2 separate regions of the Homo sapiens genome follow, and region 2 is linked to region 1. The links come from fine-mapping of genetic effects on gene expression. Tissue or cell type: whole blood. Region 1 holds a variant in brackets; the other region holds the start of a gene. All regions are shown on one strand. Distances are from middle to middle.

What was found. PIP is the estimated chance that this variant, and not a neighbour inherited with it, causes the effect.
Region 2: THBS4 starts here. The variant in region 1 is fine-mapped to the expression of THBS4 in whole blood (TOPMed, PIP above 0.99).

Annotation. Positions count from the first base shown.
Region 1 is chr5:80,065,592-80,069,757 of GRCh38, forward strand. THBS4 (thrombospondin 4) reads left to right here. Exons shown (of 22, transcript NM_003248.6): 10 at 2,382-2,534. It overlaps THBS4-AS1 (THBS4 antisense RNA 1), which reads right to left. Exons shown (of 8, transcript NR_109930.1): 7 at 2,923-3,183; 8 at 758-2,290. Among named protein-coding and RNA genes, the nearest start is that of THBS4-AS1, 16 kb to the right of the region's middle. The variant C/T (reference allele first, on the strand shown) is at 2,446.
Region 2 is chr5:80,033,206-80,037,371 of GRCh38, forward strand. It overlaps THBS4 (thrombospondin 4), which reads left to right and starts at 2,143. Exons shown (of 22, transcript NM_003248.6): 1 at 2,143-2,420. The coding sequence starts at 2,333. It also overlaps the pseudogene TRMT112P2.

The sequences.
Region 1 (4,166 bases):
ATTGGCAGAATAAAGGCAAAAGTTTGTGCTGAAAAAGTGTTTAATATGAGTAATTTTAAAAGTAATTTTTATGTAAGAATAATTTTATAAGTGCCAAGTTCTTTATTTTCTATCAAAGTTGCAATATTAGGCTATTAGATAACTATTTATTGAGTAAATAATTATTACTCCTGTATTTTAAAATTGTGAAGAGCTTGGTAGTTTATATTAATAGTTCAGTATTTTACTGGTGACTACACAATCCCCAAATGGCATTATTTATTTTCATAAAACTTTCAATCATGGGGTCAGGAGATCGAGACCATCCTGGCTAACATGGTTAAACCCCGTCTCTACTAAAAATAGAAAACAAAATTAGCCGGGCCTGGTGGCGGGTGCCTGTAGTCCCAGCTACTCTGGAGGCTGAAGCAGGAGAATGACATGAACCCGGCAGGCGGAGCTTGCAGTGAGCCGAGATCGCACCACTGCACTCCAGCCTGGGCGACAGAGCAAGACTCCCTCTCAAAAAAAAAAAAAAAAAAAAACTTTTCAAAACTTTTCATTGTATTAAATTAAAGTGCTTAGCACTTAGGGATGCCTATAACTTAAGTATTCAGATATGGGTTTTATTTCTGAAAGTTCCTGTCAAACTGTGTCCAAGATGAGAGATGTACCAGAGTTGACTATCAAGAAAAGAACTACTGATTACGTGTATGACTATTTGAAAGTTATCCAGCCTCTAGGTTCCTTGTTTCCTTGTAAGTAAAAACACTTTACATTTATCAAGTCACTTATTTTAATCCTCACAACAACCTCATAAACAGGGATTATTATTATCCCCATTTTACAATTGAAGAAACTGAGGGACAGAAATATTACATCATTAAGTCCAGGCATGGTGGAGCATGCCTATAGTCCCAGCTCCTCAGGAGGCTGAGGCCGAAGGATCATTTGGGTACAAGAGTAGTTTGAGGCTACAGTGAGCTGTGATCGCCACTGCACTCTAACCTGGGTGACAGAGGGAGACCCTGTCTCCAAAAAGAAAAAAAAGAAATGTTACGTATTTAGACTAAGGTCACACATCTTCCAGGTTGGCTACAGAGCCTGAGTTCTTCTCCGCAATGCTATATTGCTTAGGAATAGATGGGGATTTATTGCTTCTCAGCTTTTACCAGGACAAAGTAGTCTGCAAATAGATTTGCGAGATCTTGGTGTAAAGGTAATAACTGAGCCACCTAGAGAGAAGGAAAGTAGACAGTAAATAGAACTCCAGGAAACCCCAAAAACGAAGGACTAGGCCAAGGAAAAAGAGCAGAAGCCAGAAAAAGGAGCGAACTGATAGCACAGCCAGGGAGGCTGAAAGATCGAGACAAGTCATTGGAAAGCATGCATTGGATTTGGCAACTAAGAGGTTGTGAGTGACTTAAATCATTAAACAATATATATACTTCAAATGGATGTCTTTTACGACCTGTAAATGTTATGCCAATAAAACTGCATAAGATGAAAAAGATCTAATGTACAGCATGGTGACTGTAGTTAATAATACTATATTATATATATGAAATCTGCTAAGAGAGCAGATCTTAAGTGTTCTCACTGAAAAAGAAAAAAAGGAAGGTAACTATGTCAGTTGATGGATGTGTTACTTAACTGACTGTGGTAATCATTTCACAATGTATACGTATATCACATCATCACACTGCACACTTTAAATATATTCAGTTTTGTCAATTATACCTCAATAAAGATGAAAATTTTAATTTTCATTTTTTAAACATATTGTATAATATTTATTACATATATAGTGTGCAGTGTGATAATATATATTATATATATAAAAGCTAAAAAAACCTGGCCCCTGAAGTGTCATTGCAGCGGAGCTGACAGCTCATTTGTCAGTTTCTCAGCCTACCTCATCAGAAATTCTCAATGCAGGCCACCAGCATTTCTCTGTGCACCCATTCCTTTGTCATTCCATTGTAAAAGAGCCAAAGGAACAGCAATAAGAAAAATTAACTTGCTTTTTAAGCAGATCATCTCCCTGTCCCCAGAGTAAACTTCTCACACCACCTCCCAGGACTTCACTGGAACTTTTGACCTGTCCCCTATGCCCTCCACGGTGGCGCGGGCAACTCAGTGTCATTGGTTCACAGTCCAGCCTTCTTCCTTCACTTCTATTCCTTCTTTGTCTGAGTGGCCGGACGCAGCCTCCAGTCTGATGGTGTTTTCATCAACATTCACATGATCTTACATGTAAGCAAAGAAGAAGGCATGGATCTGATGCCTGATTCCTGCCAGCAATGAGTACCTGTGAAAATATACACAATAACTGTACCTTTGCTCAAACTGTACCTTTGCCCACAGCTTTCAGCTCATCACCTGATCTTTGTTCCTTGCAGGGATCTTACCGCTGTGGGCCTTGTAAGCCGGGGTATACTGGTGATCAGATAAGGGGATGCAAAG[C/T]GGAAAGAAACTGCAGAAACCCAGAGCTGAACCCTTGCAGTGTGAATGCCCAGTGCATTGAAGAGAGGCAGGGGGATGTGACATGTGTGGTAAGTTGTTTTTTGACTTCCTCTATCATTTTTCCTCTTCCATTTTTAACACCACCTCTCTCCAGTTTCTATGTGCTTCAGGGTAAAAGTACTCCAAAATGAAAGCATTGCAATTAAATGAGCATGGAGTGTAATAGGAACAGGGTCCACCGAGTTTGTGGGGAGCAGCCTGACATCCATCTAACCATCAGCTGCCTTTTCTCTCCCTCTTGGCTGGGGGGCAACCCTGTCCACTTGGGTACCTGGATGCCAGAGCCTCCGGTGAAGCCCCAGCTCCCAAGCACCTTCTATGGAAAGGCCCAGAAGCCAGCAGCAGGGAGGTGAAGGAACATTCTTCTCCCCTTTCCTTCTTCTGCCCCATCTACCTGCCTGTATAATGACAACATACCTGCTGTCATCTCTAACTGTCCTCATCCTTACAACTTCCAGAGTCTGTCTGCCTTGACGCTCCTGTTGGGGGTGGGCCATCGTGTAGAGGTGGGGACTGTCATAGTCCCTCCGGGAGAAACCTTCCGTCTTTGGCAGGTGACTGGCAGGGCCAGACGGCGCCATGCTGTATGTCTACCTCCACTCCAATCAGGGACAGCTCCATGAATGGTCACGCTTCCTGTGCATTCTCCAGCCACGGAGCTGGTCTGGGGAGGGGAGGCTGGGAAGAGAGTAGAGCAGTCACAGCAGGGCCTGACATGGGTCCCATGCTGAGCTTGTAGTGGGCCCTATGTGAAGGAGAGGGCATGCTCCTGCCATCCATTCCCAAATCCAAGGATCCAGAGTCCTCAGCCTGCCATCCATTCCCAAATCCAAGGATCCAGAGTCCTCAGCCTGCCATCCATTCCCAAGTCCAAGGATCCAGAGTCCTCAGCCTGCCATCCATTCCCAAATCCAAGGATCCAAAGTCCTGGGGATCCTAGGCACTGAAAAATCAGCAGACTTCAGCTGCCCCCCTCCTCTGCACTTCCTGGGATGCCAGGCCCTCGGCCGGTGGCCCGTCAGACTCTGGGGTCACTGGTTCACAGTGATCACCCCTGAGTAGCAAGATGGATTCTCGGAGCCCTTTTCCATCTTTATCTCAAAGTTATGCTTCTTTATCTTTATGCATACACAATTTTCCACAATGAGCCTACCACTTTTCAAATAGGAAAAATAAGAGTCAAAAATGAGTTAATAAATAAATATAATGAAGTCAGCCCTCCTTGGCAATACAGATATTCTGTAACAAGGTCAGATGGAAGAATGTGGTGTATCAGAGGGGGAATAACCCCAGCAATTTCCTGAATTCCTCATGGTTGGGCTTGTTTATTACCAAAAAGCAGTCATTGAGAAACAAGTGTATATCTCTGTTGAAATCCCCATTTTCTGTGAACAAATTGACAACTCCCCTGGGATGATGGGTGATGGGGCTCTTAATATGTTTTTGAATTTGTAATAAGGCACAACGACAGATGGTAAAGGATTAATAAACTTGGCGTGACTACTAAAATAATTGAATCTGCCAGAAAATAGCTCATTAAAAATGTATTTGTTCCTAGAGGACATTTTTTCCTCATTAAAGTGAGTCAAGGATCAGCCTCGTGGATCAGCCTTCCAGGCCTTCCAAAGGCCCTGCTGGGGCAAGTGAGCAGGAACCAGGAG
Region 2 (4,166 bases), 32 kb before region 1:
TCCTGCGGCTGATGGGGAACACACGTCCAGACTCTGGGCACTGCAGGGTGCCCTCCAACACATCTACCTCCAGCAGCACGTGGTGCATTGTCCTCACCATGGAGATTCCTAGCAAATACTCTAGGTATTTTAAATAGAAGAAATTTAATACAGGGAAATGATTACATATATAGTAGAAGAACTGAGATGTCAAACAGAAGAGTGAGGCAATCCACATTTTAGCAACTGCAGTAAGTGACCTCCAATGTCATGGCTGGAGGGTGCAAATGGTGAGAAGGCAGAAGCTAGAATCATGGTGGACCCCACCTGCAAGAGTCACAAAGAAGATGCATCCATTCAGGTCACAGAGAAGTAAATACTCTAGTGTCTACCTTCTACCTTCTTATTGCTCTCTAGTCTCCCATTTTATCTAGACTGCTGACAAGCATGCAGTGGAAGGTGAGCACCAGATCTGAGAGGAAACAGGCAGTGTCTGGTGGCACACTACACAAGAACTCTCACAGGCATCCACTAGGCTTGCTTGGTGACTCATTTAAGGAGTAACCCTATTTTATGTATCAGAGTAGTCTATGGTGTGATATAGCATATTGCTGCTTTTGATGTTTGGTTTCATTTGTTCCCTGTAGGCACCTAATCACTGTTTTTTAAATTCCCCAGGAGATTCTGGTATACCCAATCAGCTGAGAACCACTGAATAGTGGCTTTCAAAATTTTGAGCATCCAAATATTGTCTTCACAGAAAATCTTAATCTCTGAAGTCTACTGTAAAAACATAGAAAGGCAAGGCTGTTCTGCTTGAAGCGTAGCTTGGGAGCCTAGATTCCTCTCAAACCCAGGCCACTCCTGGGAACATGGTCTGGAGATTTGAATGTTCCCAAATCTAGTTTATCTCATTAGTCGATATTTATGCACATCCTCTGTGTCTCTCAGTGTTCTCTCATGTGTAGACATATGCCCCATTCCAAAGAGTGACTGTAGTGTAATGTGGCATTAAAGGAACCCTGGATAGACCTGTATTGGACCTTACATATTAGAGAGCTCTGCAGATAGCTCACAAATCTCCAAGTCGCTAGCTGTAAATTGAGTGATAATTGGTGTCAGGTTATTTTAGCACAGTTTGGGGATAAAATGGTGCATTAATCTCCCAGTTTGTGGCTTATTAAACTTTGAAATGGAATTATTTGAGACATAAAAGAGATAGCAATACTTTGCTGGATGTTCTCCATTAGTCGAGATTGTTACAGAGGAGAAATTTTTGCCACTGTTTATCAAATATTTTTTCCTCTAGTTAATCCATATCATTCCGGGAGCTTTGCCCAGGAAAAGGACGAATTACTTGCGTTCCTCCGATCTCTTTCAAGTTCTACTCCCGTACCTTTAAACTGTCACACGGAATCTTTGGTGACAGAGGAATAGAGGTGGGCAAGCAGGGCGTTTGGAAACCATACTGAAAACGAATTATCCATAAAGCACAGATTCACCAGCCTAGAAATGGCTCTGTCTGGATGGATTCCTTGAGATGTGTTTTATCTCCATTAAAAACACAACAACTTTCAAACTTTCACTGTGTCTCAAAATGATAGAGAAAAAAATTCAGCCTTTCAAGTATTCAAGAAAAGCTTGAAGAAATAAAAGAAACTCGCTGCTCTCTGGGCCACTTTAGGAGGCAGAGCGTTCCTGGAGAACTTCAGGATTCATTCGCAAGGGAACCCAAGGTGGGCATTCAAAGCCGATCCAAAGGATATTCTTCTTTTTAGAAAACAAAAGGAGCGCAAGGAGTAGGGGACTGAAGGTGCCCAAAGCTAGTGGGTCAGTGTCACTTTCTTCCTCCCTTTCGCCCCTTTCCTCCCGCTCCTTTCTCCCCTGTGGTCTCTGCTCAGCACCCCTTTCTCTCCAGCCCCGACTGCCCATCTTCGCCCCTACCCTCGCGCGTCGGGGCCGTGTCTACACCCACCCCAGGACCTGGTCCGTCCAGGCTCCTTCCCATCCTCACACCCGCGCCTTTCTCCCTGCGGCCCCGGCTCGCTGCTCCAGCTGCCCAGCTCTTCCCAGGACAGGGGATCCCGCCAAGGGGGCCGCCCCCGCCCCGGCCCTCCCCCGCCCGGCCGCACCATAAAGCGCCCGGCCGCTGCCGCGGAGCCCAGCAGCCAGCTCCCCAGCACCGCACGGCGGGGACGCGAGCGCGCCCCCGACGGCAGCCCGGACGCCGAGCACGGGTCACCTGCGGCGCCGGCCCGGGCGCCGACCGAGGTTCAACGCACGGCCCGGGGACCCCCAGGCGGGGCCAACGCCGCCGTCGCCCCCGGCCTCGCGGGGAGCAGGAAGAGCCAACATGCTGGCCCCGCGCGGAGCCGCCGTCCTCCTGCTGCACCTGGTCCTGCAGCGGTGGCTAGCGGCAGGCGCCCAGGCCACCCCCCAGGGTAAGTGGGTTCGGGTCGGGCCTGGGAGCGCCGGGCACCGGGTGCCCCATCTGCTGAGTGAGTGGAGGGACTTGCTCGGCCCTGTGCTCCTGTGGCCTTGCTCAGCCCCTCTCTGTCCCTCCCGGGCCCAATCAAAGCATATTGTGATTGGAGGTAGTGATTAGTCTAGAATTTTCCGAAATTCGATTATCCAATGATGAGAACAATTGCCTAAATAGTTGGGGGATGCAAAATTGTTTCAGACTATGCAAAGATGTGGGGTGGGGTTGCCTTCAAAACTTGCTACACGGTCCTAGACCTCTTAACATGTTAGGCTCTGGTGTAGGGTGAATTCCGGGTCCTGCACCCTGTGCCGGTTCCCTCCAGGCAGCCTTGCTCCCTAAATCCTTCCTCAGGCGGAGCGATGTATGCCCAGAGTCTGCTCTTGACATCCCTGAGAAAGACGCAGAATTACTCTACTTGCCCTGCCACCTGCATTTTCTGCTCTGACTTTGCTTGAACGACAAAAAGAAAGTTTATTTCAAGGATTGGCTTGATGTCTTAATTTCTGAGGTAAATAGGAAGGGCTGAGAAACTGGTCTTTTTCAATGAAATCAGTTCTTTGCAGCAAGATGGATGCAGCTGGAGGCCATTTTCCTAAGTGGATTAAGGCAGGAACAGAAAAGCAAATACCATGTTCTCACAAGCGGGAGCTAAGCAGTGGATAGATATGGACATAAAGATGGAAACAGTAGACACTGGGGACTCCAAAAGTAGGGGGGAAGGTTGGGAAAACTACCAATTGGGTACTACGTTCACTGGGTGATGTGTTCACTAGAAGCTCAAATCCCACCTTATGCAATGCACCCATGTAACAAACTTGCACATGTACCCTCTGAATCTATAATTTAAAAAGAAAAAAGAAAGAAATTGATCTTTTTCTATGAAACGGTAAAAATTCAACAAATAATGTGAAAAGATACTTGGACAATCCTCAAACCCCTTGGTGAAATGGGGTGAAATAGCCATTGGGTAGAAAGCAGTTAAACAGAATTTTTTGTAAAGACCAAAAGGAAGACATGATTTAAGCAAAGAAAGATCTTAGGGCTATAACTGGCCCTAACTGGTCAGGCGTGAGCTTCATCTGTTTGAACTTGGTGCCTGGGTTGATTTATTACTGACTGTGGAAGTAAAACTGGAAGAGACGCACAACTTGAAGTAAAAGTTGTTTTTCCTCTTGTAGCCAGAGCAAAGACTGCCTATGAGGGCGTTCTCAACTTCCCTGCCTCTCGCTGCTGGAATCACCCATTTAAACTGCATTTCGCCAAATAACTCATTTTCATTCCAGACCAGACAACCAGAACTGTGGTTTCAGGGGTTAGAGTACTGCTAACTTTTAGTTTGTGTTGAAGTATTTGAAATGCTGTAGTCCGTGCCCCATACTTCTAGGAAGGTAAAAAAGGAAGCTTTTAAACACTTCAAAAGTCTTATTGTGATGATATTTGGCAAGTTCAAATTTATAGGTATAATTTTTTTGTGTTATATACGTTCTTGACTTTTGAACATACAGCTTTATGGTGTGCCTTAGGTATGTCTCAGACATACCTGACCATTTTATGGAGATTTGAACTCGGCCTATACAACCTAAATTATCTGGGTAATTTAGTTGCTGTAGATGATCTGATTAAGTTAAGTTTCTGATAGATTCTTTTATTGCATTATCTAGTCTGCAATTATCAGGCTTAACAGGATAATTTGATTATCTCC